2 linked regions of the Homo sapiens genome follow. The protein of the gene in region 1 purifies or fractionates together with the protein of each later gene. This does not show direct contact. Each region holds a gene or a part of one and is shown on either strand. Other genes may lie near its edges.

What was found. Proteins that work in one complex are often made in the same cells at the same time.
Region 2: the proteins of ECE2 (region 1) and LMO7 purify together in Homo sapiens (affinity purification with mass spectrometry; one large-scale study listed by BioGRID and IntAct). This does not show direct contact.

Annotation. Positions count from the first base shown.
Region 1 is NC_000003.12:184,279,022-184,282,521, reverse strand, and holds part of ECE2 (endothelin-converting enzyme 2), read right to left. Parts: intron 1-3,500. UniProt on the Homo sapiens protein: Converts big endothelin-1 to endothelin-1. Also involved in the processing of various neuroendocrine peptides, including neurotensin, angiotensin I, substance P, proenkephalin-derived peptides, and prodynorphin-derived peptides.
Region 2 is NC_000013.11:75,807,330-75,810,829, forward strand, and holds part of LMO7 (LIM domain only protein 7), read left to right. Parts: intron 1-150; coding exon 151-870; intron 871-1,824; coding exon 1,825-1,854; intron 1,855-3,500.

The sequences.
Region 1 (3,500 bases):
AATATCTGTTGAATAACAGGGCGAAAACCTGCAAACAGACACTCAACACTGCTCTGTGCCAATTCCCTTAACCCTCCTCCCAGAAACCACTTCCCACTCAACCTGAAGGCCCACCTGGGCTCCACTAATCGCCAAAGGCCATCTCTTCTTCTACTTACCAAGAAGTTTTAGATCCCTTAATATTCATTCTGTGTATTTCAAATTCCTCCTGTCTCTCACCTCTCCTCTTACTTGCTGCTGGCATCAGAGGAAGAGGTTTGAGTACCAATCCCAGTCATCCCAGCTCCTGAGGGGGATGGTTAGCTAAACCAGTGATCTCACCTTACCCCTTCTCTCCCTACCTCCTCACCTTCAGCTTAGTGCTTACTTTTGAGACTCTCCTGAACCCTGCTTTACTCTTAGTTTTTTTGTTGTTGTTTGTTTGAGATGGCGTCTCCCTCTGTCGCCCAGGCTGAAGTGCAGGTGTGTGATCTCGGCTCACTGCAACCTCCGCCTCCCGGGTTCAAGCGATTCTCCTGCCTCAGCCTCCCCAGTGGCTGGGATTACAGGCGCGGGCCACCACGCATGGCTAATTTTTGTATTTTTAGTAGAGACAGTGTTTCGCCATGTTGGCCAAGCTGGTCTCGAACTCCTGACCTCAGGTAATCTGCCCACCTCAGCCTCCCAAAGTGCTGGGGCCACAGGCGTGAGCCACTGCACCCAGCCTACTCTTAGTTTTCATCCTATCTTAACCTTTTGTGTTGCATCTTTCTCTAGATCCCAGCACAGGAGGCTTCCTGAAGGCAACCAGTGACATGCTGACAGCCAAACCGAAGTCTTTCCTCTTGCCCCTTCCAAAGGGTTGAAGGATGTGGTTCTCTCCCAAATTGTAAAAATTATCTCCTCCCCTGACTCAGATGATGTCAAAATCACACATCTGTTCACATCACTTTTGAGTTTCCCTTTCCATTTCTTTCGGGATGAATCCTAAATTTGGCCCACAATGCTCCTGCATAGTGTGAGGCTATGGGCCTGTCCAGAAGGCCTTGGCCCGCATGCCCCTCCTGCTCCCTCATCCATTGAGAATGGCCAGTGGGCTGGCCATATGCCTTCCCACCTTGGAGCCTTTGCATAACCTGTTGCCTTTGTAGAGCCCTCTCCCTTCATTGCAGCCTATCCGCACCCTGGAACTAGGCAGGTTCCTGGTCACACTTGCTCTCAGAACCCTATGCTTCTCCTCTATAATAGTCCCAACAACTGGAAACAGGACAACTGTGTAGCGAACTGTTTTATGCCTTCTCCTCCACTCAGAGGGTAGTAGAAGTGTCTTGTTCACCATATGCCTAGAGGAGGGTCTGGCCAAGGGATGCTCAGCAGATGTTTCTGAATGAATGACAGAAGGACAAATGGTTGTCCTACTCCACAGCAATCTCTTTTGCTGACTCTCCCACTGCCCTTAAAATACAAGGATCTCCTTCTGTCCTTTCTCTGTCCTCCTCCTGTCTCACCTCTTCAAAGCCTTTGTTTAGGTTTCTTTTTCCTTTTCTTTCTTTTTTTTTTTTTTGAGACAGAGTCTTGCTCTGTTGCCCAGGCTGGAGTGCAGTGGTGCCATCTCAGCTCACTGCAACTTCCACCTCCCAGGTTCAAGCGATTCTCCTGCCTCGGCCTTCCAAGTAGCTGGGATTACAGGCACCCGCCACCACGTCGGGCTAATTTTTGTATTTTTAGTAGAGATGGGGTTTCACCATGTTAGTCAGGCTGGTTTCAAACTCCTGACCTCAAGTGATCCACCTGCCTTGGCCTCCCAAAGTGCTGGGATTACAGGTGAGAGCCACCACACCCGGCCCAATTTTTGTATTTTTAGTAGAGATGGGGTTTCACCATGTTGGCCAGCTGGTCTCAAATTCCTGACCTCAAGTAATCAGGTCGCCTTGGCCTCCCAAAGTGTTTGGATTACAGACACCCTGCCTGGCCTGGTTAGGTTTCTAAGGAGATGCCCCTCAGGCCTCTGGGTCCTTTCACGCTTATTCTCTCTTCAGGACTCCACACAGCTTTCCCAGCTGCCTGCTGACCTCTCTGTATGTAAGGTGCCCAGGTCCCATCAAACTCACATGTCTAAAAGGAGCAGCTCCCACACTCTGATTGAGCATCTGCCACATGCAGGAGCATAAGTTTGTACCCCTAACCTACTCCAAATGCCATATGAGGTTGATGCTATGATCCCCTGTTTACGGATGAGGGAACAGCCTCAGAGAGATTAATCAACTTGCACCAAGCAGCAGAGCTGAGACTGAAATCCAGGTCTGACTCCAAAGTCTCTCCTATTCCTGTGATGTTGCACTGTCTCCTCTTTCTCAATGTACCCTAAGCTGGTTCTTCCTAGAGACACCCCTAATTCCCAAGGGACCCCTCCATTCCACCATCATGAAAGTGTACAGCTTCAGCCATCTTCACCTTTTCCCTCCTCTAACATCCGGGCACCAAGAACTCATGATTCTGACTTGATGATATCGCTTACATCCTCCCCTTCCTACCATTCCTTCTGCCACTCTTTCATTTGGGACCTTCCTGACTCAGAGCACGGAGTACCGCAGATGCTCTTAATTCATCTCCAGGCTTTCTTTCTCACATCTACTCTTCACACCCCAAACAAACTGACTTCCCAAAGCACTGCGCTCCCTCCCTACTTTGGAGCATGCAATGGCTCTCCGGGAGCTACAGAATAAACTCCGTAGTGTGCTATTCAAGGTCCCCTCCATAACCCATTCCTGCCCACCTCTCCAGCCTCTCATCTGCCTTGAGTTCTATATTTTACCACAGTGGACCCCTTGCCATGGTCCAGACACACCTAGCCTTTCCCTCGTCAACACTTTTTTTTTTTTTTTTGAGATGAAGTCTTGTTCTGTTGCCCAGGCTGGAGTGCAGTGGTGCCATCTCAGCTCACTGCAACCTCTGCCTCCTGGATTCAAGCGATTCTCTTTGCCTCAGCCTCCCAAGTAGCTGAGATTACAGGTGCACACCACCATGCCTGGCTAATTTTTGTATTTTTAGTAGAGACGGGTTTTCACCTTGTAGGCCAGCCTGGTCTTGAACTCCTAACCTCAAGTGATCCGCCGGCCTCAGCCTCCCAAAGTGCGGGGATTACAGGTGTGAGCCACTGTGCTCAGCCTCATCAACACTTTTGTTTAAACTGTTCCTTCTTTCTTTTTCTTTCTTTTTTTTTTTTTTTTTTTGAGTCGGAGTCTCTCTCCGTCACCCAGGCTGGAGTGCAGTGGCACAATCTTGGCTCACTGCAACCTCCGCCTCCCAGGTTCAGGCAATTCTCCTGTCTCAGCCTCCCGAGTAGTTGGGATTACAGGTGCCTGCCACCACGACTGGCTAATTTTTGTATATTTAGTAGAGATGGGGTTTCACCTTGTTGGTCAGCCTGGTCTCGAACTCCTGACCTCAGGTGATCCACCCACCTCGGCCTCCCAAAGTGCTGGGACTACAGGCGTGAGCCACCGCACCTGGCCTAAACT
Region 2 (3,500 bases), on another chromosome or scaffold:
CAAGAGTCCCCACAATGGTCCTCTAAAATGATTTACCCTCAGTAACTGGCTAGTTGGTCTGCTAATCACCTTTGGCTAGTCGATCTGCTAATTACCTTTTCTCCCTAAGCTTAATAAGATTCTCTTTCCTTTTTCCTCTCTGTGCATCAGTCAGTTTTTACTGCTTCAGGCCCTCCAAACATACTCTGATGACATCTTGTCTTCTGAAACACATACCAAAATTGATCCCACTTCTGGCCCAAGGCTCATAACCCGCAGGAAGAATCTCTCTTATGCACCAGGCTATAGAAGAGATGACCTCGAGATGGCAGCCCTGGATCCTGACTTAGAGAATGATGATTTCTTTGTCAGAAAGACTGGGGCTTTCCATGCAAATCCATATGTTCTCCGAGCTTTTGAAGACTTTAGAAAGTTCTCTGAGCAAGATGATTCTGTAGAGCGAGATATAATTTTACAGTGTAGAGAAGGTGAACTTGTACTTCCGGATTTGGAAAAAGATGATATGATTGTTCGCCGAATTCCAGCACAGAAGAAAGAAGTGCCGCTGTCTGGGGCCCCAGATAGATACCACCCAGTCCCTTTTCCCGAACCCTGGACTCTTCCTCCAGAAATTCAAGCAAAATTTCTCTGTGTACTTGAAAGGACATGCCCATCCAAAGAAAAAAGTAATAGCTGTAGAATATTAGTTCCTTCATATCGGCAGAAGAAAGATGACATGCTGACACGTAAGATTCAGTCCTGGAAACTGGGAACTACCGTGCCTCCCATCAGTTTCACCCCTGGCCCCTGCAGTGAGGCTGACTTGAAGAGATGGGAGGCCATCCGGGAGGCCAGCAGACTTAGGCACAAGAAAAGGCTGATGGTGGAGAGGTCAGAGTGTGTTTCTGCAAGGATTTTGCTTGTAATGGATGGTCTTGTGTAACTTTTCTCATGCGAGAAAGCAGCTCATCGTGTTGCTCAACTCTGCATGTCGCGTGCCATTTTGAAGCATCCCGTAAAATTTAATTTGCTTTGAAAAACCCTCAGTCGTTTTGTACAAAAAGTGCAATTCCATATTTGCATATCTCTAAATAACTTATTTAGGCCTGTTTAAGACTGTATATACATAAACCTTGCCTTTGACTTAAGCAGTACTGTGGTACTATCCACCAATATGAAGTTTCTGGACTTCTCATGTTCAGGCATTTTTGTAACAGTCTGGTTATAGTTTGGTTTTATGTGTTGCTCACATTTTAGAGTGTCTGATTTTTTTGGGGGGGTGAAATTTTCCCTTAAAATATGGCATTGCAAATTTCATTTAACTTAATTTTTGGTTTTGGCCTAGGTTTCTTGGACTATCATTTGTAACTTATTTTTATTTATGAAGTTCAGAGTAAACGTTGATGTTAAAATGCATGAATGGTATTTGTTGTCTGCTGAATTTTATGTGTATGTAATCATGGCCATTTTGATAGTTTGTATTATGCAACTTGCCTTTTTGATGAATGTTCAGTTTGTGGAACTTAGAGATGGACAAATCTGATTAGGTTGAATAAAATTAGAGGATCCAAATCTAACTTAACAGTTCCTGACAATGGGAAGCCTTTTCATATGGATTTGTTAGCTCAGAGTAAATTGAGGAAATTCTTCATTTTGCTTAATCTGAATTTCCTGAGATAGGAAATTGATGAGAACTTGAGACATGATCAAGAATGTGATGGAAGAAGTGACCTTTTGAGATTTGTCCGTCTCCAGTTAGATTCTTAAGTGGAAGACATTGAACGTTTAGAAACTAATATGACTGGGAAAAATGACTTTTTAATTTTTGGTTTTCTGGTTTCTTAGACTCTTTCAAAAGATTTATGGTGAGAATGGGTAAGTTGTGTGGTTCACAGTAAAAAATCTGTGCGTGTTGTTTGTTCTTTGTATAACTTACTGTATTTCTGGCATGGCATGTCACTAAATGGGGTTGTTGTGTGCTGTGCATGATATTTTTTAAGTGGGAAATGTTTATCTTGCAACCTAATGGTAATATTTCTGTGTCTTGGTGCCCAGTGCAAGATAAAATTATTTGTTTTATTAAAAATTTAAACTTCAGCTTCATCCCTTCTTTTTTCCTTTTTAAAAATTTAATGAGTTGATTAAAAGTCACAAAAGCACTTGCCTAAGATTAGGTATATGTATTTTGGTATTTGGTTGCTACATAGACTAAAATTCTGATTTATGGATGCTAAAGCCCAAATTACTACATTTTAGAAAATCTGTGATGGAAAAAGAATATTAGCATTTACTTCAAGTTTAGAATACACCCAGTTGACATTATCCTATAATCGGCCAACTGGGAGCTTCGTTAGTAGGGATGCATTAAACTTCCCTAGGTGGTATTTGGAAGTATTATATTTTCAAGATTCCTGATTAGGAAAAAAAAGTTATAACATGGCTATATTTATAGTGCAAAATAGACCTTCAAAAACTGCAAAAATATTTTTAATTTCTAATATCACTGTTGCAAAAACTACATTTTTTTTTTTTTTTTTTTTTGAGATGGAGTCTCGCTCTGTCGCCCAGGCTGGAGTGAAGTGGCGCAATCTTGGCTCACAGCAACTTCCACCTCCCAGGTTCAAGCAATTCTCCTGTCTCAGCCTCCTGAGTAGCTGGGACTACAGTTGCATGCCACCACACTCTGCTAATTTTTGTATTTTTAGTAGAGACGGGGTTTCACCAGATTGGTCCGGCTGGTCTCAAACTCCTGACCTCAGGTGGTCCATCCACCTCAGCCTCCCAAAGTGCTGGGATTACAGGCAAAAACTACATTTACAGTAAATCATTTATTCATTCTTAGTACAAAATCACAAGGTGGCTATATCTTAATATTTTCCACCAAACTTTCTGTAACTTTGTGAATCTAAGGGCTAATAGTGTTTGAGCAAGAGGAAGAGAGTTAAAGGATGACAGATGTTTTAATCTGCTCAAGCCTCAGTAGCTAAGTATCTTCCCTTATGAGGATTTACTTCATCTATAAGAATCTCTAGTTTTGATAGCTTTTTATAACTTTGATAATTCAGAAATGTTGGAAGCTACTAAATGTAAAGCAGTATAACCATTCTAGATGCCAAAGGTGTAACTGAGCCACAGGCAACAAATTGCAAGTACTTGTTAGCCACTGATTTTAAAAACCAGGGTCCCTGCATGCTTTCCGTGTGCCATGCAAAGGCACATTATCCGCTTTCCAGCTCATCTGCATGATGCTTAAACATTTGCTACTCTCAAGTCATAGGAAAGCTGTTTTAACTTGATTAAAAATCTCTTTGCAGCTTTAAGCATGTTGAATTGTAACTTTCAGAAAAATTTTCATTTGTAAATTAAATATAACTTTATAATGTAAGCAGCTCTCAGAAATAGTTGCTTTTCTTAAAGGAAATAAAAGTACCCAGAGTACAAGTATGTGGTGGAAATGTCAACATGTACAACCATTTCAGTGGCTGGATGTGTTCCCTGTAGTGAGGGGTAAATTATATGAC